Linked DNA regions of Homo sapiens: regions 2, 3, 4, 5 and 6 are each reported to be linked to region 1. Evidence: microRNA targets listed by miRTarBase, many of them from high-throughput screens and not tested one by one. Region 1 holds a microRNA gene; each other region holds the end of a gene's coding sequence. Distances are between the middles of the regions.
Evidence for each region. The annotated mature microRNA hsa-miR-30c-5p reads UGUAAACAUCCUACACUCUCAGC and lies in region 1 at 3,407-3,429, shown strand. An mRNA with a match to its seed (bases 2 to 7 or 8) in the 3' UTR can be bound and repressed. Matches are read on the target gene's strand: a 7mer-m8 pairs with bases 2 to 8, a 7mer-A1 pairs with bases 2 to 7 and ends in A, and an 8mer does both.

Region 2: the mRNA of NSMCE3 is a reported target of hsa-miR-30c-5p. Seed matches in the 3' UTR shown: 7mer-m8 at 2,065-2,071.
Region 3: miRTarBase lists TOMM5 as a target of hsa-miR-30c-5p. Seed matches in the 3' UTR shown: 7mer-m8 at 651-657.
Region 4: miRTarBase lists CEP152 as a target of hsa-miR-30c-5p. The part of its 3' UTR that is shown has no 7-base or 8-base seed match.
Region 5: miRTarBase lists SIKE1 as a target of hsa-miR-30c-5p. Seed matches in the 3' UTR shown: 8mer at 3,154-3,161.
Region 6: miRTarBase lists HERC4 as a target of hsa-miR-30c-5p. The part of its 3' UTR that is shown has no 7-base or 8-base seed match.

The regions. Positions count from the first base shown.
Region 1 is chr1:40,753,894-40,758,985 of GRCh38, forward strand. It overlaps MIR30C1 (microRNA 30c-1), which reads left to right and starts at 3,391; the gene lies at 3,391-3,479. It overlaps NFYC (nuclear transcription factor Y subunit gamma), which reads left to right. Exons shown (of 10, transcript NM_014223.5): 6 at 4,228-4,401. MIR30E (microRNA 30e) reads left to right here and starts at 462; the gene lies at 462-553.
Region 2 is chr15:29,264,258-29,269,344 of GRCh38, forward strand. It overlaps NSMCE3 (NSE3 component of SMC5/6 complex), which reads right to left. Exons shown (of 1, transcript NM_138704.4): 1 at 732-5,087. The coding sequence ends at 4,534. All of the region lies in intron 2 of ENTREP2 (endosomal transmembrane epsin interactor 2), which reads right to left. Among named protein-coding and RNA genes, the nearest start is that of NSMCE3, 3.0 kb to the right of the region's middle. RefSeq lists an enhancer at 4,860-5,087.
Region 3 is chr9:37,584,116-37,589,207 of GRCh38, reverse strand. TOMM5 (translocase of outer mitochondrial membrane 5) reads left to right here. Exons shown (of 2, transcript NM_001001790.3): 2 at 276-795. The coding sequence ends at 310. Among named protein-coding and RNA genes, the nearest start is that of TOMM5, 5.9 kb to the left of the region's middle.
Region 4 is chr15:48,733,624-48,738,715 of GRCh38, reverse strand. CEP152 (centrosomal protein 152) reads left to right here. Exons shown (of 27, transcript NM_001194998.2): 27 at 1-778. The coding sequence ends at 467. Among named protein-coding and RNA genes, the nearest start is that of CEP152, 75 kb to the left of the region's middle.
Region 5 is chr1:114,770,170-114,775,261 of GRCh38, forward strand. It overlaps SIKE1 (suppressor of IKBKE 1), which reads right to left. Exons shown (of 5, transcript NM_025073.3): 5 at 1-4,203. The coding sequence ends at 4,102. Among named protein-coding and RNA genes, the nearest start is that of SIKE1, 8.0 kb to the right of the region's middle.
Region 6 is chr10:67,918,711-67,923,710 of GRCh38, reverse strand. HERC4 (HECT and RLD domain containing E3 ubiquitin protein ligase 4) reads left to right here. Exons shown (of 25, transcript NM_015601.4): 25 at 572-1,806. The coding sequence ends at 780. Among named protein-coding and RNA genes, the nearest start is that of SIRT1, 37 kb to the right of the region's middle.

The sequences.
Region 1 (5,092 bases):
CCTTCCCGTCTCTTCTGCCTGCCCCTCTCCAAAGGTCACACTAGTTGTTTTTTCAGCACCTTGGGTGCATATAGCTCTTAATTGTGATTGTAATAGACCTCTGTCCTTTAGAGCTCATTGTTTTAAGCATGCAGATTGCATGATTCACTAGGTGCCACTTGGGAAATTGTGGCAGAATCTCACAGGAGCAAAGCTGTGCCTTGTTCTGCTTGCTTTGTTATATAAAACTTTATTTTTAATGAATTATTTCATAGTATATTATCCTTAGAAGCAGTCATTCAGTGACAGCCATTCTCCCCATCCCAGCCTGTATTAATAACCAGTCAGAGAAAGTCTAGGAGAAGTGGGCATCCTAATGAACATTTGTAATTCTGACCCTGCATGAGGGCCTTTGGATTAGCAAGCCCTCTGTCACCTCCTTACTAGAGTAGGGTGTGCCTCACTGCGTCTCCGTTCTTTCTGGGCAGTCTTTGCTACTGTAAACATCCTTGACTGGAAGCTGTAAGGTGTTCAGAGGAGCTTTCAGTCGGATGTTTACAGCGGCAGGCTGCCACGGTCGTCCCCAGCTACGCACCGGCTTTGAAACATTGCAGGTTTGTGCCCACAGGCTCAATTCCTCCTCTTGGGGGTCCTTCCCTCCTCTCTCAGAAGTCACAACAAGAACTCAGGCCATTTATCTTCCTTCAGAACAAAGAGTATCATACACCTGCTTTCCTTGTTGAAATTGTTTTCTCCTTTTGTCTATCAGAAGCCCCCTTTAAAACAAGATTGTGAGCTCTGTGATGAAATCAGGCCTTGCTCACTCTCATTGTGCTAACTCCTTGTTTTCTGTGGGCTGCCTGCTGAATACACTGGCTGGAGAGAAGGGTCACATCCTGTCAGTTCCTCCAAATTCCTCAGTGCTTCTGGGTCTCTCGGGGTGTCATACAGCTCCTTATTCCATCTTAGCCAGACTCAAAATGCTATGATCCATCTGATTTTAAAGTGTGTCTAGCTGAAACAGCTTCTTGTTGCTTGGATTTAGTTCTTTGTAGGTGTTCGAGGCATTGATTGGCATCGTATTCGGGACAGCTGCTGCCTGGCCTTTGAAAGGTTGAGATTGCTGAAAGCTGGCCTGAAATTCTAAGATAGCATTTTTAATCCTCTGTAGACATGAAGTTTTCCCAGGCTTCAAATTGGCTGGCACCTCCTAAAGTCCTTTAAAACGCCTACTCTCCAAAACCCACCCTTTCTGAAGGAGGCAGCAGTTCACTCTTGCTACTAAAGCGAATGTACTTTTTTCCAGTCAGGGCTGGTTGCACAACACTGTAGAGATGGCCCTAGGATGTGATGCTGCTCTTCTCTGGCACTGTTCGTCAGTCTCAGCTTCTGGAAAGATTCCAAGAGCAAGCCCTGTAGTTGGGGAGGCCACTGCTAAAGTTGAGCAAGTGCCCCATTCTGGATTGATCCAGTCATTAAAGCATTGTTCTGCCACTTGGGGCAACCTCCCACTGCTGGGAAAAGGAACTAGTCAGAAATACTGAATTGTGAGTCCAAGGCCCTGACTTCTCAAAGATACTTGAGAGTTTCGCTTGTTCTTCAGAGAAGCAAGTAAAGATTATTTGAAGGTAGGAGGTAGTTGAGGCCTGACTTCTGCCCCACTAAAGCTATTGAGTTGAAAGTTCCTGCCCATTGAAATGTCATTATCTTTTCACCCATTTCTTTAAACCAAGCATAATCATTTCCTTGCTGGCTTGACCTCCATTGGCAGAATGAGTCTTCATAATGCAGAAGAGCCTTAGATATGCCTTCTTCCATTCCAGTGATTTGAGAACAGTTGTGCCTTGTCCTAACAACACAAACCTAGGTGCCTCCACTTGATTCTCAGTGTCCTAGATACTGTCTAGTTCATAAACAGTTTAAGAGGATGTAGTAAGCAGCATAGGAGGAGCTCTTGTCCTGCTCTCACAGCTTTTGGCAAGAGATATTTTGGGTTCTGGAAGGGGTTTTTAAAGGGTTTGCTTTTTGTCTGACAAAAAGATCATATTCAATACTAGATCAGCTGTAGTTGGGGATAACTGGAGACTAAACAATCACAGGTCACGGCTAGAAAATGCAGGTGTCTCCCTGCTGCCTAGCTTCCTACACAGCTGGTTCTGAGGCTCTCATTCCTGTATACCCTCTCATTACCCAAGAGCTTTTCCAAGTTAGGTCTGGATTTCAGTGATTTGTGCTTTTTGTAAAATAATAAGGGAGATCTCAGTGGAACACAAGTACCTTGAACCTACTTCAATAGCTTTGCAAAGAGCAGTTGGCTTCTGTTTCTTGGCTGCAAAAGGTATCAGTATTTTAGCTTTGCCACAGCCAATACCTAGTTTCCAGGCTGACATTTATTTATAATGATGATAAGTTGGGGTTGAAATTGTTGTGGAAATTGAGACCTAGATGAAAATAAAAGGGAATCTCCTTTTCCTTCTGCCTTAGCATAATCATATTGAGGGTTAAAACTATTTGTGTCTGAAGCACAGACTATATCAACCTAAAAAGTCAGTTCATATATTAACTTAGAAACCCAGAATGTTACAGGTATCTCCCTAAGCTGGGTAGATGGCTGTCAAGTAACCATGTCATGCAGAGACCCATGTTTCTCAGGGGTAGATACTGGCAGTCCTAGTTTTAGTATCCTAGCCCCCAGACATCAGGCAAACAAAGGATACTCAGCTCTGTTCCACAGGGGACACTAGCTGCTTCCTCACACTGTGGCCACAGAGTCTTAGAGGTACCAAAAGAGAGTTTAGAGACTACTTTTTTCTATTGGTAACAGCTGTTGGGTTTAAGAGAATTTGTCATATCAGCAAGTTGGATTCAGAGAACTACTTTCCTGCCTCTAACTGTCTGCCTGTCTAAATCCATTCATCATTCATCACGCACTTACTGAGTGCCTACCTGGGAACGCGGGGGATAGCAGAGAGCAAGAGAGAGCTAGGCTTTGCCCTCATGGTGCTTAACATTTTAGTAGAACAGACAGTTAATTTGACATGCAAGTGCAAAAATGTATACTGTGAGGACAGTACTTTGGAAGCACAGTTGAGGGCACCTAACATAGTGTGGGGATGGGGTCAATACCAGCTTTGTAAATGTTACTTTGGGGAGTTGGAGGCAATCCACAGGGTCTGTGTACATCTAAGAAGTGTCTTTTCCTCTTTTCTGGAACGTGGCAAACTTTGCCCTGAATAAGGACATGAGTAAATTTAGCTAATATTTTTACTCAGCCAGCCCAAGTGGTTCTGTGTTTTTATTGTTTTTGTTGTCCCAGGCAGGGGCACCATGTGTCACACAGGTCACTCCGGATCAGACGCCGTTCTGTGTCAGTGGTCAGGGGCTGATCAACCCTGGACCCTGTGGGCTATAACCATGCTGTAGTGTGTGTAAACATCCTACACTCTCAGCTGTGAGCTCAAGGTGGCTGGGAGAGGGTTGTTTACTCCTTCTGCCATGGAAAACATCAGCTGAAGAAGGAACAGTCTCCACTCCGCAGATCGGACAGAATGCGACCTCCCTAATCAGCCAAGGCAGTACCCCAGCGGAGAGCTGTCCATCAGGCCCCCTGGGTTGCGCTTCTGTGGCTAAGTACAACCAGAACCAGATGTGACACTGGATAGACATGCCCTCAGTGACCACAGAGCTTTCAACAAGCTGTGAAAAGCTGGGTACTTGCCTACCAGTGCTCTCGATCCTGAAATTTCAGCTCAGGAAAAGCCCTGTTTCCCATTAACCTGTTCTGTCCCCCTTGAAGTGGTGGGGCTAAAACGAGAAGAGTGCTGCCTATTTGGGAGATTGGGACCAGGCCTGAGAGGCATGATGTTTGGGTAGCATCTTCCCAACACTTGCAATTAGCACTGTTCTCAGATCACAGGCCTTGACAGCATTTACTGACAAGCACTGCTGGTGTGTGGTTTTTAGTTACGGTACTTATTTGCCCGTTTGCAACTTATCATGCAATGGGTGATTATTTCGTACTTCAGAAATTGGCTGTATGTTTTGTGAAGCCTATAGGATCTGTTATTTTTAGTTTGATTTAGCATAACTGGTCTCTTTGAATTCCACTTTCCTTTGGCTTCAAATGTGGAGAGCTCAGCATTCAGCAGGCAACTGCACATAGCCTGTTTGGGGGAAGAGTGGAAATTCACTGTGGCGGCTGCTGAGTTGGTTCTTTTCCTCTTACCTGCCTCTCTTTCCACCCAACAGGAGGAGGTGCGCCAGTCTGTAACTCCTGCCGAGCCAGTCCAGTACTATTTCACGCTGGCTCAGCAACCCACCGCTGTCCAAGTCCAGGGCCAGCAGCAAGGCCAGCAGACCACCAGCTCCACGACCACCATCCAGCCTGGGCAGATCATCATCGCACAGCCTCAGCAGGGCCAGGTCTGTGAGCTGCTGAGGATGCCCATCCAGCAAGACAGTGCCCCTTAGGTTTTTGGATGGGCAGAGCTTGATGAGGGCAGAGAGGCAGCCAGATCATTATAGAGCACTGGATTTAAAGTCTGGAAACTGGAACTTTTCCCCAGATTCAGCTACTGGGGTGAGATGTTACCCTAATCTCTCTGGACCCTGTTTTTCTCAAAGGTCAAATGAGGAAAGTGTACTAGACAGTATGTTCTCCAGGATCCCTATTAGCTCAGAAATTTTAGAAGGGAAAAAAAAATGTCTGAAATGCCTTATGAAGAGTAGAGGTGCTAAAGTGAACTCCATGCCTGCTGTCTGTGTGTCTGTGTGAGAAGTGGAATTTGTGCCCTTAAAGGGAGAGATTAGGTATCATTGCCAAGTTGCATACTCCTTCTCCCCGTCATTTCTCTGTCCCATATTTGTGTTAAGTGACCTTCTCTTTTTACGATAGTAATCAGAGGACTCTTTCTCTCCCCAGTAGTAGTGTTAAGAGCAGTAGCATTCATGTTTGTTGGGGGTCATGTGAGGCTGCAGAGAACTCTGTACTATGAGCTCTGAATCCAAATTCTCTGTCAATCATTATTTATTCATCAAACACTGAGCATCCTCTGAGGGTAAAGTTCTGTGCTATGTATTGGGGATACAAGCATGAATAAAACAGTCCTTATTT
Region 2 (5,087 bases), not on the chromosome of region 1:
TCCCACTGGCCAAATCAGGGACAATTTGAGTATTGAAATATGTAATGATAATAAAAGATTAGATAATAAGTTAATGATAATAAGAGACCCATGGGTCTATACAAAGTCTCAAAGTGTCTCCACACAAGTTATTTGTTTACCTTAAAGGAGAAAACTCTGCAGTGGAGGCACATGACAGAAATCCACCTTAACCAAAGTGATCAAGGTTTCAAAATAACAGGACAAATTGAAATTTTGTGCCACCTGATAGGATCCAAAAATAACACAGCATTGCTTCTGTGATATTCTTCCCAAAGATGCATAATTCAAATCCAATCATGAAGAAACAGCAGACAAACCCCAGCTGAAGGATGTTCTACAGAAAACAGGCCCGTATTCTTCAAGTGAAGGTCATAATAGTCAAGGAAAGACTTAGGAACTACTGGCAATAGGAAGGAGACTAAAGAAACATAACTAAATAGTTCAGGGAACAAATTATTTTGCACTGGGCTTGCAACTTTTCTGTAAATTTGAGGTTATCTCTAAGTAAATTAGCATAACCTCAAAAATAATGATAATATAGGAAAATTAAAGACTAACCCCCCCTTATGTCAAAAGATGCAAAATTATACATTTTGAGCTATATGTATTTAAAAATTTTATCAACAACTGTTTGTCTCCAAAATGCAAGAATGTTTAGATATCAGAAAACTGTATGTTATTACACCAAATTATATGCCCCAAAAAACAAATTTACAGAGTAAATAAGACATTTTAATCATATTAGCAGGTAAATAAAGAGCATATATACATCCAAAGTCATTCATAGTTTTTTTTCTGAACATCTCTAAGCAAGCTAGGACTGAAGGGGTAACTAAATAGCCCAATAAAAGGTATTTATAGGGGAAAAAAACTCTTAACAGCAAACATCACACTCTATGGCAAAACTTAAAATTATTTCCTTTAAAATCAAGAATAAGGAATCAGAAACATCCTTAGAGCCTGCTGTAACTGCTTCTTTTCAATAATATATTGCATTTTCAGCCAATGCAAAAAAGACTAAAATAAAAGGCTTTAAGAATTGAAAAAGAAGACAGGCATATGATGCTAAAGAATTATAGGCTGGGCGAGGTGGCTCATGCCTGTAATCCTAGCACTTTAGGAGGCCGAGGCGGGCAGATTACCTAAAGTCAGGAGTTTGAGACCACCCTGGCCAACATGGCAAAACCCCGTCTCTACTAAAAGTACAAAAATTAGCCGGACGTGGTGGCGGGCACCTGTAATCCCAGCTACTCAGGAGGCTGAGGCAGGAGAATCGCTTGAATCCAGGAGGCAGAGATTGCACTGAGCCAAGATTGTGCCAATGCACTCCAGCCTGGGCGACAAGAGCAAGACTCCGTCTCAAAAAGAAAAAAAGAATTACAGTATGGTATTTGCAAATGGATAGCAAATAAACCAATTCAGTCCTAGCCATAAATTTATCTATACATGGGACATTGCTACAAAATACTGAGTGTCATAAATCAGTGTGGAAAGTATAAATGATGAAAAACTGGTGCTAGGCTATCCATATAGGAAAAATACAAAAACTATTTCCATACCTCACATCATACACAAAAGCAGATTAAAAGCATAAAATGTGAAGATCAAAACTTTGAACACTTAGGGAAAAAAGGCAGAAAACATATTTACAATTTTAGGATTAGGGGAATTTTTTAAAGCACTATACACAAATGTAGCTCTTATAAACACTAATGATCGTAACACATTTAGGTCAAATGATCTGTATGACCAAAAGAAGTGAAAATGTGGGAGAAGGTATTTGCACTAGATAGATAGAGCAGACCATGGATTAACATGTAGAACATATAAAGATGTCTTACAAATCAATAGAAATAGGTCTAAGACATGAAATCTGACACTCAAAAAGGAGTGAGAGCAAAAGATAGGCAGATACTTAACATTACTAGTAAGCAACAGGTATAAGTTAATACCGTAATAAATTATCATTTCACACTGTACCAGAATGGCTGAAAAGATACTGAAAAGGCCAAGTGTTCACAGGGGGTGAAGGTGGAGGGATTGGTAAACAAAAACAAAACAAAACTGTATAAAATGTTGATGGGAGTGTAACTTGACACAAGCTCAAGAGCAGCTTGGCAATAGTCCTTGATTGCTCCATTTGTTTCTGGCTGGAGAAACTCACACATGTGCCTAAAGAAGTACTGTACAATGCCTGCAAATCTCAAAGAACTGGAAAGACCTTAAATGTCCAGACATTAAGGAATGGATAGTTATTTTTCCCCCATAAAAGAACAATTAAAATGAGTGAATCAGGTCTACATATATCCACATGGCTGAATCTCAAATACATAATGGTGAGTGAGTACAGCAAGTTGCATAAGGACACACGTAACACCGCTTATATAAATCATGAAAGCCCACAAAATAAAACTCTATATTGGTTATGTATATATACATGTATAGTAAAATTATAAAGTCATACAACAGCCCGATAGCCACAGACTTTTGTTACCTCTGGGGAGGGTGAGAAGGAAAAGATATAAGGCCTTGATGTGGCCTCTGATGTTTCATATTTTAAAATTTGAAACAAGATTATCGATGGTAAATTGCTAACACCTCTGAGAAAAGCGGGGGGAATTTTGCCTCAGATATAACTGGTGGTGACTGCTGGGTAATAATTTTTATTATACAGGTGAGAATGCGAGTATCAGAGGGCATGAGGAGGAGAAAGCTGAGTCAGGGAGGTAAGGGGACCAGGAGGCAGGAAGGAGTTTATACACTGAAATAAAATGCAGATCAAGAAGAAATGCCTGTAAGGGCCAAACATATTCCACTGATGAAACAAATGCAAATCCCAATTCAACAGAATGAAATAAAACCCAGTAACCTATCACATTCCTCCATACTCACTATAGACTCTTTTAAATGACATTCCGTCCAGTGTTGATGAAGTTCACTTTTTTCCCCGAGTTAAAAATATTTGCCTTATTTCAAGGTTAATTTGCAGCACCTCCCCCTAAAACAATTAACTTATTTGCCCACTGAATAAAACGTGTTGAATCTCTGCATTAAAAACAGCATCTGCTACACGTAATGGAGGAACACAATGGGACTATGAACTCTTCTAGTTCATTTAGTGCATAAAACTATTATATAGCTATTATTTTTCTCATTTTACAGATAAATTGAGATTCAGAGAGCTTAAAACCTACCCCCACAACCACCATGCTGACAAGTTAGCATGAGCCGTAATTCAAATTCAGTTTGCCAGACAGCCCCAAGACCCATACCCTTTTCCCTATACCTAACTCCCTAGGAGGTAGATCTTATGTCCTGCTCTTATGTTCTATGTGGGGCACACTCACCATACACGTTATATTTCCCCATACAATAGAGTGAGACTAGAGGACTATCTTTTGAACCAGGAATTGCTCTCCTAGGAATGATTTGGAAAAAAAGATAAAGAAAAGTTATATTTAAAAAGTGGCAGCTCCAGACCAAGGAGAATAAAAAATAAAAACATTAAAGAATAACAAATAAAATTCTCCACATCACGGACTAAAACCATTTTACAGGTCAAGAAACATCTGCATACAAACTAAGGAACCTATGTAAATTCATATACTAGTTATGGTGGGGCCAGGATCTCAACCCAGACAGTCCGATTCCCAAACAGGCATGGTTAATGGTTACGCTATTGTTTTATAAGCCTTTTTGAGATCCACAGTGAGAAATATATTTCACCTCATGATCCTGATTTTGTTTCACACAAAAGTGAAACAACTTCTACAAAACAGCATTGACCTTAATATGTAGCAAAAACTTTAAGATGTTGATTTCCAGTCATGAAATTCTCTCATGACCCACGATTTAAAAAACACACAATGCTTAAGTGCTTCAAAAATACAGTATTTATTGTAATAACTACAGTAGCAAGAAGAAAAAAACGAAGTGGAACTACGTGTTTAGCAGCAGAGCTGAATAATTATGAATATAAACAATTACTATTGGGAGAAAATACATTACACTCATTGCTTGGAACCATGAATAATACTTATATATGTACGAAATATAGAAAAATAAAATAGGTTAACATAATAAGGATATAGGCAATTATTTTTTTTAATTTTATAAAAACTTTTATTTTTCCTTACAAACTGGGGTAGTTAGGAGACCTGATAATAGCTTTTTTATTTTCTTGGCACCAAAGCAACTTACTTATGTGTTCCTTCTTGCATTATCTGTTCCAGATCATAGTCAAGTTTTCCAATTCGTTTTACTAAGCTAGCAAAATTTTTTATACCAAAAAGAGTAAAATCAAAACAAATGCTCCTTTGTTTATAGATGAAAATCTGGAGCAAAATAACACAACATTAAAAAAACAAAACTTTGCAAACACATCCTAAAGCTACACACATTGAAGCGTTTACAGCAATATGCTCCCTGGGTTCGTTCTCCCTTCCCCCAATCCTCTAAACTGTGCCTTTGGGTCTCAGACCCTTGTCCCGGGGGTCCCTCTGAATCCACCTTTCAAGAGGATGGAGCTGGGCCACTAGGCTGAGGTCTGGCCCTGTTCTCCTCATCTGCCAAAGCCTCACAGTACTGCGCTGGCCAGTCCTTGGGGTCTTGATTATGGACCTTGGCCACAAACTTAAGAACTTTCATCTTGCTGGTTTCCAGGTTGGTTCGCGGGCCCCACTGGAATTCGTAGTCGACGGGGTCGGTGTGGGGTATCCGCCGGTATTCCAGGTAACGCTGTCGCACAAAGTCCTCAGTAATGAGTTTCTTTGGATCTCCGAAAATTAAATGCTTCTTGGTGGGGTAGACCCCTAAGCGCCGCAGAAAGTCCCAGGCTTCAGTTTCCTTGATGGTGTTGCCCTTCATAAAGATGAGCCCTAAGACGATCATCAGGAGGCCCGTAGTGGGCGTGCCTTGGTCACCCCTCATCTCGGCATCCTCCTCCACAGGCTCCAGGGTGTTGATGAGGATGTAAGTGTTGCTCTTGGGTTCAAGTTCCACCAGCTTATACCCGAAGACGTACTGGAGGCGCTCGGCGGCCCGTTTGAAGAGGTCGGGGAAGATGT
Region 3 (5,092 bases), not on the chromosome of region 1:
GAGAATTGGATTTATACTTTATGGCCCTAAGGGGCAAACTATCTGGAGAAAAGGTTTTATGTAGTATAAGAATGAAATTTACAATAATAGCTGAATGACAGTGGAATGGGCTGCTTTGGAAGGCAACTAGTCCCTTTTGCTGGGCTGTACAGGCACATGCTTGACCATCACTTGGAGTTATTTTCAAAAACATGTTGAATAAACCTGATAATTCTATAATGTAGCCTATGGGCTAATAGATTTGAAAACTAATTTTAGATTTGTTTTTCTTTCAGCTCCATTTATCTTAAAGAAATTGGACAGCATATGAAGACAGGACATCACATATGAATGCACGATATGAAGAGCCTGGTTACAGTTTCGACTCCTCTCTGCAAGTGAATAGGCCCAGAAAGGTGTAAGAGACTCTTTGAATGGACATAAAATTCTGCTTGTTAAGAACAAGTTTGGCTCTGGTAACTGACCTTCAAAGCTAAAATATAAAACTATTTGGGAAGTATGAAACGATGTCTCGTGATCTGGTGTACCCTTATCCCTGTGACGTTTGGCCTCTGACAATACTGGTATAATTGTAAATAATGTCAAACTCCGTTTTCTAGCAAGTATTAAGGGAGCTGTGTCTGAAATGGCACTGTCTTGTCAGTCATTTCTGTTTACCTTTTTCTTCTGCCCAGAGTGTATTTGTGAAGAGTCTCTTATATTATGTTTTGTGGAAATCAGCACACAACCACAATGACATTTAAGCACAGGATCATTATTAGTCTATGTTTTTAATAAACATATCAATTAAGAAAAGTTGGGTTTCTATTTTTCTTATCCTACTTTTTGCTGCAAACCAACAATCACTAGTGAGACTTGTATTATATTGAGATTATTGCAAGCTTCAGTAAGTTCATCTTGTTTTGGACTAGAGAATTTGCCAATCCTGATGAAGTGTCATTGTGTTTTATTGCCAGGCAGTCTTAATGAAAGGTAGCATTACTGCTTGATGCTGAGTATATGAAATATTAATACTACCAAAGGAAAAAGTACTATATTTTTAAGCCAAATAGTTCTCCAAGTTTGTTGAGTGGAGGGGGGATAGTCCTTAACCTTCTCCCCAGGAGCAACTACATACACCTCTTTTTAGCTGATTTTATTGGTATTTACCTTTTGGTCTCTAAATAATGTGACGGTCGTGATTGGGATTTAGGTCTCTTTCCTGTCCTTAGCGCCATCACTCACACGTATCTTGTCATCTCTTCCTTCCAAAGGATAACGTAGTGTGATCTTGAGTAGATTAGTATCATTAGGATTCTGAGTATAGTACCTGGTTTTCTTTTGCTGTGTATCTTTTTGTTTTTTTCTAGGCTTGGTTTTTCTATGGAATTTCCACTAAATCAACTAAACTTTTTGCCATTTATCTAAATCATTCACAGCAATCAGCTTTATTAGGTACTCTGTTTCATTTTCCTGAGTAAGCGTTTCCTGGAGTCTTCTGACCCGCCCCTGACTGGACTGATAGCCTTCTATGCCTGATGTGTGTGGCTATATTCTGGGAACTCCCTTCTCTATGCCTGATATGTGACTGTATTCTGGGAACTCCCTTCACTATTGTCCGGGAATTCCTTTTCTTCTCTCTTATTATATCTCGTTTTCTGTTACCTAGTGTCTTGGTTTACTCCCTTGTTTGATGGAGCCTGTTTTCTCTGGCAGTGTCCTCCTGAGAAAGGTGGCATAGGAGGTGAATGACCTTGCTGGTCTAAAAATGTCTTTTTTTTTTTTTTTTTTTTTTTTTTTAACACGGAGTCTTGCTCTGTCAACTAGGCTAGAGTGCAGTGGCATGATCTTGGCTCACTGCAACCTCCACCTCCCAGTTCAAGCGATTTTCCTGCCTTAGCCTCCCAAGTAGCTGGGATTACAGGCACGTGCCACCACGCCTGGCTAATTTTTGTATTTTTAGTAGAGACAGGGTTTTGCCATGTTGGCCAGGCTGGTCTCGAACTCCTGACCTCAGGTAATCTGCCCACCTCAGCCTCCCAAAGTGCTGGGATTATAGGCATGAGCCACTGTGCCTGGCCTTAAAAATGTCTTTATTCTATAGTTTGATGAATATAGGGTTCTAGATTAGCAATCATTTTCCTTCAGAATTTTAAAGCAAAGCCTCTAGCTTTCAGTGTTGCTGCTGAGAAATCTGAAATCATTCTGATTCCTGATTTTTTTGTGGGACTAAGTATTTCTTCCTGAGAAACAAGGATCTTTGTTCCTAGTATGCTTATATTCCATGATGACATCATTTAGTGTGTGTTTATTTTAATACACTGTGGTGGGCACTTGGTGAACCTATTTAAACTTGAAACTTGTATCTTTATTTCTCAAATTTTGTAGGTTTTAAAATAATTTTATTATTTTTTATGGGTATGTAAGTGTATATATTTATGGGGTGCATGAGATATTTTGATACAGGCATACAGTACCTAATAATCACATCAGGATAACGGGATTATCTGTCACCTCATTTATAATTTATTTATGTTACAAACATTCCAGTTATACTTTTAGTTATTTTTAGATGTACAGTAAATTATTATTGACTGTAATCACCCATTATGCTATCAAATACTAGAACTTATTCATTACATCTAACTATATTTTTGTACCCATTAGCCATCCCTGCATTCCTTCCCTAACCTTTCCTAGCCTCTGGTAACCATCATTCTACTCTGTCTCCATGAGTTCAGTCGTATTAATTTGTAGCATCCACCAATGAATGCTTATAGGTTTTTATTGATTTCCTCCCCTTCTTTTTCCTTCTGCTCTCTTTTTAGAACAATAGTACTTTTAATGTTTTCTTTTTCCTTTATATTCTATTTTATCTGTAATTGCTTTTCTCTTTTTTTGTTTCATGTTAGATGCTTTCCTTGGTTGTCTGCTCACACTTAAAAATTGGGAACTAACATGGATTAAAGGCCTGGAGTGGAGCTTGTTGATGTTGAACTTTGCCAAAGGGCCATCTATTGGGCCATTTTTGTTGAGAAAACTTTTTGCGTCTGTATCTTTAGTTATTTCCCATTGAGCTGGTCATTGCTCAGAGAACAAAGACTCTTCCAATCTCCCAAGTGCTGAATGAGGCCCTGCCAACGTTCTGGGATTCAAAGGAATAGGGCTGTGGTGAGGCTCAGGACAGACAGGTGTGTGTGTGTGTGTTTCAATATCCAGTATGTATTTGCTCACTGCGTCTCTGTTTTGAGTATAGTACCTCTGCCCAAACTGCCTGGCATCCCATAATCTAGAGACCTTCTATTTTACCCTTTTCAGAAAATAAACTTTTTATTTTTTGGAGACAGAGTTTTGCTCCAGGCTGGAGTGCAGTGGACGATCTTGGCTCGCTGCAACCTCTGCCTCCCTGACTCAAACGGTTCTTGTGCCTTAGCCACCTGAGTAGCTGGGATTACAGGCGCACACCACCATGCCTGTCTAATTTTTGTAGTTTTAGTAGAGATGATGTTTCATCATGTTGGCCAGGCTGGTCTCGAACTGCTGGCCTCAGGTGATCCGCCCATCTCAGCTTCCCAAAGTGCTGAGATTACAGGTGTGAGCCACTGCACCTGGCCTAAAAAAAAAAACTATCATTTTGAGAGGGTACTGTGTAATGGAGGCTGTTTTGCTGCATAGAGTTGCAGAGAGCATCTGATTACTTAAACCTTGCACCAATTCTTATTTTAATGTCTACCCTTCTACCCCTTATTGCTAGAGGCACCTGAAGCCACTAGTTTCTGAGCCTTTTAGGGATTCCATGATATAAATTAGGTTGTGAGTTTTTGTTGTTGTTTGGGGGTTCTTGTGGGTTTTTTTCTTTTTCTACCGCTGGCTCAGAATTCAGTTTTTCAGAGTCTACTACATTATTTACTGTTGATCTACCTATTTTCCAGCTTCTAACGTTTTATTCCTGTTTCCTCTTTTCTTCCATCCTTTTAGGTTTATATCTTAAAACAAAAACCTTTACCGTCATTTAATGGGATTTTTGGGAGGGAGTGGAGGTAGGTATACGTGCTTCATCTACCATCTTAACCTGGAAAGCATGTATTTTAATTCTGTGGTTTTGTATTTATTTCTTAAATTAAGAAGGTGTAGTGTATGGCACTGTGGTCATATGAATACTGGCTCTAAAGACAGGCAGACTTGATTTTGAATGTTGGCTCCAATACTTACGAGATGGGTGATTTTCAGCAAGTGAGCTCCGAATCTCATTTTCTTTAACTATAAAATTAGGATAATAGAAACATCTCTCTACTTCAAAGTGTCGTAAGGATTAAGTGAAAAAATGCAAGTAGAGCAGCTGGCACAATTGCTTGACATTTGGTAAATGTTATTAATGGCTAGTCTTTGGTATAAGGCATTTAGAAGTGATTTGTGCTGGCATTCACAGCATAGACAGATCTCATTCCTATTTCCAGATGCTCTGAGATAGCATACTCATCCTCTAATTGTGTACAAACTTCAAACTTACCAAACACTTAAGTTCATTATCTAAAAATAGCCTTAACCAATCAATAATAATGCCATTTTACAGGTGGAGAGGTTGAGACTGCAAGTTTCAGTGGCCAATGAGTAGCAGCTGGCCAAGGCCTAGGGGACTTTTTTTTTTTTTTTCATTTAAAAAAATTATTTCTAGTCAGTCTGTGCTTATCCAGGGGACTTTTAATGTTTATTTATTCCTTGTACCCCATCCTTACATGCTTTTCTTGGAGGAAAATAGTGTAATTGTTACCCTGGATTCTAGTGTATGTTCAGGCTGGAGTAAGAGAAAATGTGATGGTTCAGTTTTTGTGACCAGCTTTTTAACTTTCAGGCCATAAACGCCACAGAGGGGCTCAATACTTGGAATAAGCAGTTCTAAAATAGTACATTAAGAAACAGTTGGGGAGATATATACAGTTTGTTTGTTTGAATATGTAACATGAAATAAGAAAGAACCATAGCAAATTTGAGTTTGGTAAACTCTTGAAAGGGGTACGTTGAAAGAAATGGGGATAGTGAAAAATGTTTATTCTCCACAAACAGGTTACCAGCTTAGTAGGAATGCTGCTCCTAAGTTAAGGTAGTGTACTTC
Region 4 (5,092 bases), not on the chromosome of region 1:
ATGTTCAGGAACCTCCAGTAAAAGATGGAGGGGACCTTAGTGACTGCTTGGGCTGGCCTTCCAGCAGTGCAACCTTATCCTTTGACAGTCGTGAAGCATCATTTGTACATGGTAGGCCACAAGGAACTTTGGAAATACCAAGTGAATCTGTTAAATCCAAACAGTTTTCACCATCCGGTTATCTTTCAGATACAGAGGAAAGTAATATGATTTGTCAAACAATGAAATGTCAGCGTTATCAAACTCCATACCTGTCAGAAGAAACCACGTATTTGGAGCCAGGAAAGATCAGTGTGAATTGTGGACACCCATCTCGTCATAAGGCTGATAGATTAAAGTCAGATTTCAAAAAACTGAGCAGTACATTACCATCTTCAGTGTGTCAGCAGCCTTCAAGAAAATTAATTGTTCCGCTATCTAGCCAACAAGATAGTGGCTTTGATAGCCCATTTGTTAATCTAGACTAATTATGGTACAGTATTTAAGAAGAATCATTAATATATTAACAAAAATGGAAGGGAAGACCTCATACTGAAAAAAATTGTGAGCCCTGCCTCTTTTGAGATGTTTTAATAACATCTGTTATATAAGTAAAGCATTCTTCTAAAATTGCTTGAGATATTTATGTTGCCTTAATATTCCAAAGGCCTGATGGTGTATGTATAATCTGCTTTTGTGTGGTGCTTATTTTTGGTTTCTAAACCATCTATTTTTATACTTATAAATTGACTCACTCTGCAGTGTTAACTTATTTAAATAAACTTGCATATGGTCTGTAGAATTGTTATGAATTATTTTGTGGTTCAGAATACAGAAATGTCATATTGGCATCATGTTTGAAATTCACCCAGAAAAAAACATAAATTTTGATTATTTGTATGTGTTAGTCAGATTTAGTTTTTGAAATTAGTCATGTTTAATGAGGCTATGAACTTAATCTACATAGACTTTTCCTAGCAATATCTACTCAAAATTTTGATCTTTTTTTCAGTTAGAGGTTTTCCAGGGTTTACTACAAAATACATAGCTATGTCCTGGTTTTATTATTTAAATATTAGTCTGAATTTTTTTAGTTCTTACTTGCATTATTTCAGATCATCTGTGACATCCAAAAACTTTGTCTCTTTTATGGCTTCACATTTGTTTTTTCATCTGAAATACGACCTTTTGAAAAATTGAGATAAGTTTTGTCATGTAGCAAAAAATGTAAAACGATTAGATTTTTACATTCATTTATAGTGCAGAACTGGCTAATTAATGCTCTAGGTTAAAGGTTATAATTCTAAACTGAAGAATACATGCAGAAATGAATGACTACCTAAATATCATTGTTTTTAGGTGAATTCTTTTTCAGATCCCTAGCGATGGGTATGAACATTTAGCTGTATGCAAGTGCTTCCGAAAACAGTTAACTATAGCTTTCTCTCACATCTCCCACACCTACTATATTATGGATTGTATTTGGGGGTTAATCTAGTGTATTTTTCCACCCAGAGCCAGATAACTTAGGTGGTGATGGGGAGACGGCAAGATGCATCCTCCTCCTCCTGATAACCATCTCTAAAAGCAAGAACCGAGAAGGAAAACTTTTTGGGCTTGGAAAGCTCTGTCACCTTAACTCTTGACCAGGGATAAATAAGTCTAAAAATTGGTCCTGGACTTCAGTGCTTGAATTCACATACAGCTATAGTAAGGAACAAACCATCTTGTCAAAGTCTCACTTGTATTCCTGAAGATACAATGCTCCTTCTCCAACAGTTAGGCTGTCATCTCTCACTCTAGAAAAAAACTCTAAAACAGCCAAGTTTATGCTCCCTATGGATCTGGTTGGTGCTTGATCGTTTTAAGCCCTTGTTTTTAGTAAACTTAGAATCTAGGCTCGTTGCTCACCTACCTTTTCCACTTGGTTCAAAATCCATGTCAGTTATTTAAACTCTCAACATTAAGGTTGAAATTGGAAGTTCTCTTGCTTTCTGCTCCTTTTAGAGTATCCTTAATCTTTTTTGATACTCATAATCTCAATAGGATTAAGTTACTTTATGTCATACATCCTATATCCAATTGGTTGGAGATAGGGTGTGGTATAGGGTGTATGACAAGGTAACCTAATTCTATTATGATAAATATGAAGGTATCCACTTATTAGTGTGCAAATGAAGGGACTACACAGCCAAACTATGACTAGTGGTGTACATTGGTTTGAAAGGTCATGGCAGAACAAAAGGGAGGCAGGAGCCCTGTAGATATCATGATCACATAAATCTCACTTTGTCATGATATTTAGCCCTTTTTTTAATGTTGCTGGATTTTTATTTTATTTTATACTTTGTTAAAGATTTTCATGTGTATGTTCTTGAGAGATATTGGTCTCTTGTTTTCCCATGCTCTCTGTCTTGCTTTGGTAAAAGGGTAATACCAGTCCCATAGGGTGAGTTGGAAAGTGTTTCCTTGCCTGTGTTTTCTGAAAGAATTGGTGTAGCATTGGTATTACTTCTTCTTTATATATTGGATGGAGTTTACTAGGTGAAGGCATCTAGCCTGGGCTGGTGGTGGGGGTGGTGCAGAAGTGTGGATTTTAAGTAATGTATTTTCTTGTTATAGAGCTATTCATAATTTCCATTTTTTCTTTAGTCAGTTTTGGTAGTTTTTGGTTTTTGAGGAATTTGGCTATTTTATCTAAATTGTCTAATTTGTTGACACAGTTAGCCATAGTATTCTCATAATCCTTTCATTTCAGTAGGCTTGATAATGATGTCCCCCTTTCATTCCTGATTTTGGTATTCTGTGTCATCTCATTTTTTTCTTAGTCTATCTAAAGGTTTATCAGATTAGTTGATTTGTTTTCCCCCAAAGAACTTTTGGGTTCTTCTCTTTTCTCTTGTTTTTCTATTGCCAATTTCATTGATTTTTCCCTCTTCCTTCTGTTTGCTTTATGTCTAATTAACTGTTCTTTGTTCTTTTTTTTAAAATTTATTTATTTTTGAGATGGAGACTTGCTCTGTCGCCAGGCTGGAGTGAAGTGGCGCGATCTTGGCTCATTGCAACCTCCGTCTCCCGGGTTCAAGCAATTCTCCTGCCTCAGCCTCCCGAGTAGCTGGGACTACAGGCGTGTGCCGCCATGCCCAGCTAATTTTTGTATTTTTAGTAGAGACATCGTTTCACCATATTGGCAAGGCTGTTCTTGAACTCCTGACCTCAAGTGATCCGCCCACCTCCGCCTCCCAAAGTGCTGGGATTACAGGCATGAGCCACCACGCCTGGCCCTTCATCGATTCTTAAAGTGAAAGTTTAGATTATTGATATGAAACTGTTCTCTATTGATATAGATGTATAAAGCTCTGAATTTCTCTCTAAGCACTGTTTAAGTTGCACCTCATATGTTTTGATATGTTGTATTGTTGTTTTCATTTAGTTCAAAATATTTTCAAACTTCCCTTGCGATTTTTCTTTTGACCCACAGATTATTTAGAAGTATGTTACTTCATTTCTAAGAATTGCAGATTTTCAAAGTTTCTTTCTTATTTATTTTTAATTTACTTGTTTTCAGATAATATACTTTGAATGATTTCCATCCTTTTAAATTTCTTGAGACTTGTTTTATGGCCTGGCATATGGCCTATCCTGGAATGTTTCACATGCACCTGAAAAGAATGTATATTCTGCTCTTTTTGGATGGAGTATTCAAAAATGTCAGTTCAAGTTGGTTGATAGCATTGTTCAAGTCTGCTATAGCCTTGCTGATTTTATTCCTATTTGTTCAACTGGTTATTAAGAGTGAGATATTGTAATCTCTGGCTGTAATTGTTAAACTTTTTTCTTTCAATTCTGTCAGTTCTTGCTTCATGTATTTTGAAGCTTTGTTGTTAGGTATATATACCTTTATATCTGTTATGCCTTTCAGATGAATTGGCCCTTTATTATTTTAAAATATCCCTCTTTGTATCTACTATATTTCTTGTTTTAAAAGTCCATTGTGTCTATAATTACTACAGCCACTGCAGCTCTCTTATGATTACTGTTTGCATGGCATGTCTTTCTGTTTTTTTCCTTTTAACCTATTTGTATCTTTTAATTTGAAGTGAGTCTCTGGAAGACAGTATAGTGCTGGATGTTGCTTTTTTTTTTTTTATCAGAGAAGCTTTGATTGGAGTTTTTAGGTGCATTAAAATTTACTACAATTTTGTTAGGTTTGCATTTTCCATTTTGCTATTTGGTTACTGTGTATCTTTCGTTATTGAATTGCTCTTTTATTGCCTTCTTCTGCATTAAACAGATATTTATGAGGGTACCATTTTAGTTTTTTTAACCTTTTTTTTTTTAGCTATTTTTCTAAGTGGTGTCTCTACTTATCATAGGTATCTTAACTTACTACGGCCTACTTCACATGAATATTGACTAACTTCTGGTACAATATAGCAACTTTGCCCCAGTTTAGCTTCATTTCCTTGCCCCTCCTTTGTGCTATTATGTCTTATATATGTATGTGTGTATATATATATATATGTATATGTATATATGTATATATTACAGTGTTATAATTATTGCTTTATACAATAAAGCAATATGTCTTCTAAAGAATTTAATAGAAGAAATGTATATTTATAGTTCTTTATATTTACTGACGTAGTAATCATTTCTGCTGCTCTTTCTTTGTTCCCATGGATTCTAGTTGCCAGGTCTGTTGTCATTTCCTTTCATCTATATTCTACTTCCTTTAGTATTCCAAGTAAGGCAAGTATGCCAGCAACAAATTCTCTCAGTCTTTGTGGATTTTGGAATATATTTCAAATTTATATATGAAGGACAGTATGTGATATATTTAGAGTTCTCGGTTGACTTTTTTCCTCCAGCATTTTGAATATGTCATTCCACTGCCTTATGGTCACCACTATTCATGATGAAAAGTCAACTGTTAATCCTGTTGTTCTTTATATATGATGAATTGTTTTTCTTATACTGTTTTTAAGATTTTCTCTTTGGCTTTCAACAGTCTGAGCATGGTGTGTCTAGGTCTGAATTTGTGTTTATCCTACTTAGAGTCTGTTGAGCTTCTAGGATTTCTAGATTTATCCTTTTAATACAATTTAGGCAG
Region 5 (5,092 bases), 74 Mb from region 1:
GGGCGGATCACCTGAAGTCATAAGTTCGAGACCAGCCTGGCCAACATGGAGAAACCCCATCTACTAAAAACACAAAAATTAGCTGTGCATGGTGGTGGGCACTTGTAATCCCAGCGACTTGGGAGGCTGAGGCAGGAGAATCGCTTGAACCCAGGAGGTGGAGGTTGCAGTGAGTTAAGACAGTGCTACTGCACTCCAGCCTGGTTGACAGAGCAAGACTGTCTCAAAAAATAAAAATAAAAAAATAGAATTAGAGGTTATCGCTAACTAAATCACTTTTGCTGTACCTCTGTGGAGATGAATGCAGTAGTGTTGTTAATCACCATCTTCAAAGGAATCTGCATGGTTCCCTCCTTCTTTGTATCACTAATTTTAAAATTGAAGGCAGATGTTTCTTCCTTAGCTGCAAAAGGAGGCTGAGAAAACATTACCTGGTACTTTCAAATTCTTTAGGAGGAAGAAATGCTCTGCCTCATTAGGTGAGGGATTCCTTAAACACAGGAGTTAGGATACTGGGCAGCCAAAAGAGAAATGACAGATGTCTGCTACAGCCCATTCTCTTGGCCATTCAATGTCAACACACTCCTTCAGCTAATTCTTCCAAAACTATATTCAAGGGGAAAGGACTTGACAATATAAAGTCACAGACATGTCACAGTCACAGACACTGTTAATTGCTTTCTCAATATTCTTTCTTCTTGCTAATACTGATTTTATTTGGGACAGCTATGTACCCTGCTTTCTTTGCAGGTACCAGTGGCCATTTAACTGGTCAGGCAATTAAGTCAAGGGAAAATCCATTTGGGATTTCTGAGAAAGCTTTGCTTTCCCTCATAAAAGGCGATATATATAGCTGGCACAGGCCATTTCCATTTTTTCTTCCTTGCCTTCAACATGGCCATGACATTTGGCTTGGCAACAACTTTCTAGCAAACACAAGAAAACAGCATGAGGGATGTAAGCCAATATGGTAAGGAGGCAGATTTGAAAGACAGAACTGCACCTTTTCCTGTATATAGTAAGAGTCACTGATTAAACATTATTCCTTTCAGTTGAATCACACATACTCTCAGCTACACCATTCTAGAAAATAATATCTCATTAGTTAAGACTCCATTTATTGAATTCATAATACTTTATAAGCTGTGGTGTTTCTTTTGCACTAATAAAAATAGATTTTGCTAATCAAGAACCACTTGAACTCCCAACAGTATTTGGCATTTAGGCATCTCAAGTTAGTTAGTGATTAAAAATGTGCTTAAGACTCTGTCTGGGTTTGAATCTTGGTTCCAGTTTGGACAAATAACCACCTCCTTGTGCCTGAGTATCTGCAAAATGAGGTACAGTTAAAATGGAGTTTATATAATACAGTACCTGACAGGTAGTAAAGCACTCAATAGATGGTAGCTATTATTGGCAATACCATACATACTTTGCTTTTGTGGCACCAAAGTTTTCTATTTCCCTCCTACCCATTTATTATCTCTATTGAATTCTCAAGTTTAAAGTCCCTCTTCTGTATCTTATACATACTATAATGGATTTATCACACTGCATTATAATTTTATATATATACTTGTCTCCTGTACCAGACTTTTTCATTTTTAAATTCATAAGTACTAATGAAGTGGTTGGCACATAGACTATTTTCTTTTTCATCTTTTAGAGTGCTAACTATTACACAATGGGGCCTAGACTAGATATTTTAAAATCAGTGTCTTTAGGAATTGTTTGAGATGATTAGAATACAAATTCTTGAACTTCATCACCAAGTTTCTATTTCAGTAGGTCAGGGAAGCACATTTTGAAGAACACTAAAATAGACCTTCAATGTTTGAATCCAATTATGCATAAGGTATTAATATAAGAATTATACATAAGATATTGATATAATACTACACTAATATAAGGTACTATTTGTAGAGTTATACACTGCTGAATATACTGTGCTAATTACAAAGTATTTATGACTCTTGTGAGGACCACTTGACAAGGTTGCTATATATATGTAAAAAAACCCTCTGCACTTCCTCATTTGACTTACTACTGAGTAAAATTAGCTTATCTTCTCAAAATGCAGTTTTTGTTAGAAAATATAATTTTGAACTAAGATTTTTGCAAACCAGGCAAGTTCTTCATCCACTCAAGGAGAAACTTTAAAATCCACTTAAAATGAAGAGCATTCCTCCCCGACTCAATTTTCTAACTACATATTATCTTCATAGCATTAACACCAGCCAGAATTTATATTATGTAGAGCACTAAAAGCTTCTTAGACTTGTACCTCAGGCTTTTAATTTTGCAGGGGGAAAAGTTAGTATGTCGATTTATCCTAACACTTGAGATATAAAGAACTTTATAAACAGCTCTAAAGGAACATAAAGCACATAAAGGGACACCATATTATACCTTGATTTGATTACTTCATCATTTTCACTGAAATCTGGCCATGGTAGGTTTGGCCGTGGCTGCCAAATGGTATAGAGTACCTGCCTCTTGAATGGATTTATGGGGTCACTTAAGGTATACTTCGAGGCAGATGGCTGGGCTAATAGTTACTTACTTACTCTTGGGAAATGAAATAAAAAATGCTCACACTTGGAAGTGTTTTTTTTGTCAAATTCTATGCAGGATATCAAACAGAAATTTGAAAAATTCTTAAATGACATATACCTATTCATTAACACCCACTGCTCTAGATGACATCCATTAGTTATTACTGGGATCAGATGCTTTTAGGACATCTTTAAAATATTTTGTTATTTTAACTGTAGTTCTTTATAGCATTACGAAAGAAATATCACTCACATAAAGCACTAACAACTCTTTTTAGTACTGTGTCTCTCCCATGCAGTATGGTGCTTAATGTTACTGGAAAATATTGACAGGTTTAGCATTATTTCAACTAATTCTGGGCAAATCTAAATAGAATAGTATAACATGAAGAAATTTATAAATTTGAAATGTGAGTAAACTGGGACGGGAATGAGTTGATGAGTGAACCCAGTTGACCACTGGGCATTTGAATCTCAATGTTGCCTACACAGCATTATGAGTGTAATAATTTTCATTAGGTAACAAAACTGCTTCCTCACCTTTTTATATAGCTTAAACAAAAAAAAAGAAAAAAGATAAAAAAAAACCCTGCTTCTATGTAAACAAAAAAAAAGAAAGCCAACTATTAGTGCTAGGAATGAAAGACATCCAATCCAAGTAAGTGATGGTTCTTAACTATAAAATGGAAATTGTATAAAAATTAAAATAGAATGTAGAACTAGTAGGATAACATTGAAAAACTGACTACTTATATTTGTTTTTTTTATTTTGTGTGTGTTTTTGGCTGATTATATTTAATAAAAGCTACTTTTAGTATTTGAACTAAGTGCACATGTGTGCATTCACATACACAGGACAAGCTCCTCAGCTTTGAACAATATGAACTTTGGACAATATGACAACTATAGCATCACTGGGCAAAAAAAATAGCTGACTTATTTCCAAGTGTGTTTCCTGGGACTAGCAGTAGGTTCTCTCAAATTAAAAGTAAAGGCACCAGGCTATAAAGTGCCAATTCTTAGCACCAGAGAGACTTAAAATGTCACAGGTGAATGACATTACAAATCAGAGAATCTGCTGATCTAGTTCTGTGGAATTGTATTATTTTTGTCAAATGGAAAAAAAAAATCAAGGTTTATGCCAAATAGATTTAAACAGTTAAATCTTTCCTAAAATTTCCTAGAAGTGTATTTTACAATGCTATGTAAAATAAATTGCTGGCTTATAAAAAATGCTCAAAGTTTCAGAGATGTGAAAAATAACAAAGAACTGAAAACATAGTTTATATAAATCAAGGTCCCAGAAATGAAAATTAAAAGTAGTCTCTTTGAGAAAGGAATGGTGAAATTCAGCATGTAGTATTCACATTAACACATCTGAGAACTGTGGACAGCCAATATTGACTGGAATTCTAAATTGCCACCTGATACCTTTAATTAAGATTAAATCAAATCTGAGGCAAGACACTTAATGGACAGTACTTGAATGGGAAGACAGTAACTTCCTTCCTTGATAGACAATCTCCAGCCATCATTCAGAGTTCAGTTATTTGATGGCTTGGGAAGCAGTGTCCATTGAGTTTTCCTTTCTGGCTTGAAGAGACTCACTGCTGATGGACAATAATTCTCGAAGTTCCTTATTTTCAAGCTGGAAAAAAAAAGGCATGTTTATTTCTGGTATTTTTACTGTCCAACTGCATTACAACAACACATTATTTTGAGCCAGGAGCAGAAAACATTATTTTAATTTTAAAAAATTTATGGAAACAAAAAATCCACTAGTTGAGAATTTCCTTAAATACTACTTTATTCATTTAACAAACATTTACATGTAGGATGTAGGCAATGATACTCTTTTGTAGTAGTAATTTACTGAGTAATTTCTATATACCAAGTGTTAGGATTACAAAGGAGAAACAAAAAACAAGGTCCTCTCCATTTAAGGAATTCACTGTTATATTCTTCTTGGTTCCCACAGTTTTACTATTATTTCTTTTATTTAAAAAATTCCTAATAATCGTTTCACTCTGATTAATCTCCTCTCCTGGATATCTTACAGTTCTAGAGAAATGGAAGGAAAGGGGGAAAGAAATTACTTATTGAGCATGTAGCTGGGTACTACTTGGGTGCCCTGTATATGTTATCTCACAATAATCTGTAGGGTAGGTATCATTGCCTACATCCATATATTTCAGATGAGGATACTCTGGCTCACAAAATTCCTAAAAGTTGTCCAAATTCAGACAACTTGGATGTGGTATTGCTGGGGTCTGAATCTGGTGGTCGTGTATTTTCTACTTGAAGTATTAAGGTAGAATTTGCCCCACATTTCCTTAGGGCTGTTTCCGTAAGTGAGGTAAATCGGGGATAAATAGAAGGTCATGCTATCATTTCACTAGCTCCTAATTCCTACTTGGGACCTGTCACTACCTTTGATTTCTAGAGAGGGTAGCTTCTGCTCTTCATCCTTATCCTCTGCAGAAAACTCTGGTAAACCAAAGCATTTTTAGCTTCACCAAGATGTGCGGAAGTCCCAG
Region 6 (5,000 bases), not on the chromosome of region 1:
GCTTGGTGACTGTGCTCCCAGCTACTCCAGAAGCTGAGGTAGAGAGGATTGCTTGAGCCCAGGAGGTCGAGGCTGCTGTGACTGTGACCGCACACTGCACTCCAGCCTGGGCAACTGAGCAAGACTCGTCTCAAAAAAAAAAGAATGATTTGAATTTTGGCTGCCCATTATAAATTTCTGATTTAAAAAAAATAACAGAAACGAAGCAAATAGAAAAAGAAATCATAATCAAAACTGCATTTTGTATTTGGTTTGTCAACTAGTTCTGAATGGCTTTTCCAAAAAAGGGCTCTCAAAATGTTTTGGCAATGGCAAAATACTCACTTATCAAACATTTATTAAGCACTTCCTTTGTGCCAGTATTAAGATTATACTTTTAAAGAAAAAATATTGTGTGGATGAGCAATTAGAATGTGTCTCAAAAAACTTGTCTTCCACAAATTAGGAAGTAAGATAACACGTTAGAGCAGATGTTAAAGTGAAGCTCTGCTGTAGCGACTGTACCAAATATTACTTGCTACTGTATCTTTTTGTTTTGAAGTGGTTGACTGAATGATTTCTTTCTTGGCAGTATTTTTGACAGGTAGTGATCGCATTCCTATTCTTGGTATGAAGAGTCTGAAACTAGTCATCCAGTCCACAGGAGGTGGTGAGGAGTATCTCCCAGTTTCCCATACTTGTTTTAATCTTCTGGATCTTCCAAAATATACAGAAAAAGAAACTCTACGCTCTAAACTGATCCAAGCTATTGATCACAATGAAGGCTTCAGTTTAATATAACTTTGGAGTTATAACTATTCAGTTTAGTGCAAAAGCATTAAACTATTTGTGTTTTTCTTGTGGTGATGAATTCAGCAAGGTGACAGAGGTACTATTATAATTCTTACTTGCAGAATGTTCAATCTACGAGTGTTCATGGAAGCCAAAAAATATTAAAGGAAAATGAACAAACTGTTAATATTATTGTACAGAACCATGGATTTTTTTTGACCATCTTCTAATAAACATAGCAAGTATTATGAATACATTAAAGTTTTACTAACATGAATTTTAAGAGTTTGCATATTTCAGAAATGATCTGGTGTGAGTGCATGGAAATATTGCTTAATTTTTCTTCAATCATTGAGTGAAAAACCTTTAACTTTGGCCTGCAATAGTCATTTGATTATTTTTTCATTTTGTAAATAATGTTAAGTTTTGTAATAAAATAGTTATGTTCTGATACCAGTACAGTTTCTATGGTTGTAATTGAACTTGAACAGACTTTTAAAGGTTAAAAATTATGATTTAAATCTTACTCTGAGACTCTATAAAAAGAAAAAAAAGGTAGCATGGTGGAAACACTATCTTTTCTTTTTTGCTAGAATAAGTGTCTTTGTGCAAACCTAAATCACAGATAGGGAATATACTACATAACCTGCAGTTCTTTTCTTTGTGAATCCTGACACACTGATAGATGGGGGATTGTCGATCAGAGAACTTATTAATATTTAGTACTGGAAGAACTCTGTCTCCACAGTTGCCAGTAATAAAAAGAAACATTGGCTACTATGAGCACCAATCACTGGGTTATAGCTTTCAAAATTATTGATGCTGCAGTGCTTTAGAGCTATTTCCTTGAATTTAAGAAACAAATCTTAACAGTTTTATGGTGCTGATGCTTAGTTGTCTCATGCCATTAAATTGTAAAAGTGAGTTGATGCAATACATGTGACTTTCTGCTATAATGCAAATATTTATTTTTTAAATTTATTTTAAAATGCCGTGAAAACTGTTTAATAAAGATTTATTGTTTTAATATTTAAACTTTCAGTGGTTCTCATATAAGAGTCAAAATTTTTCAAAAAGAGGGATGGTTCAGGGAAGGTCTCTTAAATTTCGGATGACTTGTTTCTATTCCTACATGAATTTATAGAGGTCCACAGTCTCTTAACCTGCAATTCTAAAATTTAAAAAAACTGAAAAGAATATTGTCATCTCTCACTTTGCAGAAAAACCTGATCTGAATTGTTGAAGCTATTTATGGTATTCACTAAATAAGACTATGACCGCTATTGGGTGCTTTAAAAAATTCTTCAGAATTCACAATTCCAAAATGCAAATAAGCCCAAGGGGTTGGATAAGGGATTGTGGACTTGTACTTTTCAGTAGATTAACTTAAAAAACTATTGGCGAACCATAGAACTCTTCTATAGATAGAAGCACTAAAACAATATTCTCACCTAAGGTACTTTGTCTCAAAGTAGTAGCATTCTTCCCCATGAGAGTGTTTCCACATACCTGATATTATACCATTTTCCCTGTTCATCCACTTCTTGAGGTAGTAATTATTCAAATCAAAAGCATGTCAGATGCTCTTTCTCAATAGTAGTAACCTTTGTATATTATGAAGCTGATTTGTGAAATAGCAGGCACTTTGGATTAATAGTTCCATGAACAAATATTTTAACAAGAGAATAGCATCTGGGAGCACACTGTACAAAGTTTAATTTGGGGACTTTTCCTCCCTGTTACTCCAGAACTGTGATACAATGTATTAACAGCAAGGAGATTCATGGTAGAAAGTTAAAATACCATTGAAGATTTCTGAAATTGCCACTTACTTTTAAAAAACAAGAAGAAGTCTCGAGCTTTGTAGATCAGAGCAGCAAGGCTGCAGATCATTTGCTAAATTGTAGGGACTATGATTATTGAGTTGGCTAAATACTGAAGTATTTGGCCTCCACACATCTATTTGTAAGGTACAAATACATAGTGTGTGTGTAGCTCTCCTGTCTTAGTAGTCATTCAAGCTATTAGCCATTGTTCAGGATGATTAATAAGACAGCAGAACCAAGACACTCCTTTCAATTAAAAGGAAATAAAACCAGAATGCAGGCTGGGCGTGGTGGCTTACACCTATAATCCCAGCACTTGGAAGGCTGAGGTGGGCAGATGGCTTGAGTCTAGGAGTTCGAGACCAGCCTGGCCAACATATTGAAACCCTCTCTCTCTCTACTAAAAATACAAAAAATTAGCCGTGCATGGTGGCAGATGCCTGTACTCCCAGCTACTCGGGAGGCTGAGGCAGGAGAATCACTTGAACCTGGGAGGCGGACGTTGCAGTGAGCTCAGATGGCGCTACTGCACTCCAGCCTGGGCGACAGAGCAAGACTTGTCTCAAAAAAATAAAAATAAATAAAACAATAAAACCAGAATGTAGGTGTAAAAACTGAGAGACCTAAATTAGATTCCCACGGTTAGCCTTCTCATAGGATCTGTTCCTAAGGACCATTCATTGGGGTCAATTTTTACTATCAGGTTGCTCTTCCTTACAGCTTTTTACTACATTTAGTAAAGCTGTGAATCAAGGTGTAATATGGCATAGAGCAGTCTTCCCCTGAAGAGTGCATGGTAAGCCTGCTAAAACAAGAGCAAAATATTCCTGTCATCAGTCTCTTCCTCCACTCCCCAACCTCTTTTGCACTTTGACCATCCAGAATGCCTTATGGTAGTTTTGTCCTCCTTTGCTGAAGAATTCACTCTATTTTGATAACTCCCTACTCTGCTGTATTTGCTTATGAACCCCAAATTACCTAATTTATGAAGCATTTCTAGGTAAAATTTGGGAATTGAGGCTAATGTAAGTTAACCTCCTTTTTTAAGCCAGCCCTAAGGAGTGTATGTTAAAAGTCATCAAAACAGAGCTCCTCAATTCTTTTCCAGCTAAGGGTGTTTCTCAAATCTGGCTATACTTTTGAATCGCCTGGGGGCGTTTTTAATACTCTGCACAAACCCCACCTTACACCAATTAAATCTGTATTTCTAGGAGGTCTCAGGCTATTCTTGCTTTTTAAAAGTTTTCAAGTGGTTTTTAATAGTCTCATTTGACAGTCACTTCAAAAGGTGGGGAGGTCATTAGACCATTTTTCTGTACTTTCTACTAGTATCCTAGTTTGAGCTGAAGGCCTAGAATGGCTTTAGATCTTTGGGGGAGAGGTTTTGGTGTACATACATATACATACTCCCCCACCCCTTTCTAGATTACAGGTCAGAAGTTGTGTTTCAAATAAAGCTTAGTTGGGGATTATGTAAAACACCATTGATTGAAGGTCCACCGTCATTTTATGTACCACTACAAAAAAAAACGCTAATTAAACCATGTGACATTAATTAGGGTATTACAATCAGTGAAATACAGTACATGCTGCATTAGCCAGTGGTTCAGCAATAACGTTATGCATAGGGCTTGAGTTAAATTAGGTTTTGCCAAATACCTTTTGACCACTTAAATTGACTATGTACCTTTAAAAGTATCAACTACCTGACTTCTTCAATTTGTGCATATATAGAATGTTCCTTAATTTTGTAATATTTTGAGGATATCATCTTACAGGTAATTTCTCTAGTGCTAACAATATACAGGACAGGTCTACCTAGAAAGTTTGCTGGGGAGGGAGGCAGAACTGGGAACAGGAAATTGCTAAAGCTTTATTCATTACATATACTTTTTTGTTCTTTGAGACGGAGTCTTGCTCTGTCACCAGGCTGGAGTGCAGTGGCGCGATCTTGGCTCACTGCAGCCTCCACCTCCTGGGTTGAAGCGATTCTCCAGCCTCAGCCTCCCAAATAGCTGGGACTACAGGTGCCGCCACCACACCCGACTAATTTTTGTATTTTTAGTAAAAACGGGGTTTCGCCATGTTGGCCAGGCTGGTCTTGAACTCCTGACCTCAGGTGGTCCGCCCGTGTAGGCCTCCCAGAGTGCTGGGATTACAGGCGTGAGCCACTGCACCCGACCAAGTTACACATACATTTTAAGGGGTACACTGCTGGCCTCTTCAGTAATACTTTCGCCCTCAAAACCTTTAATGGCTTAAGTAGGTTCTCAGGTCAGCCTCAGAAAGTTGATACCAAATGTGGTCTGCAGTCTTCAGACTTGAAAGACCTAGCATCCCAGAACAGATTTTCAGTTAACCCAGCCTTTGCATCAGATGGATTTTCACTATCCACCACTTCCT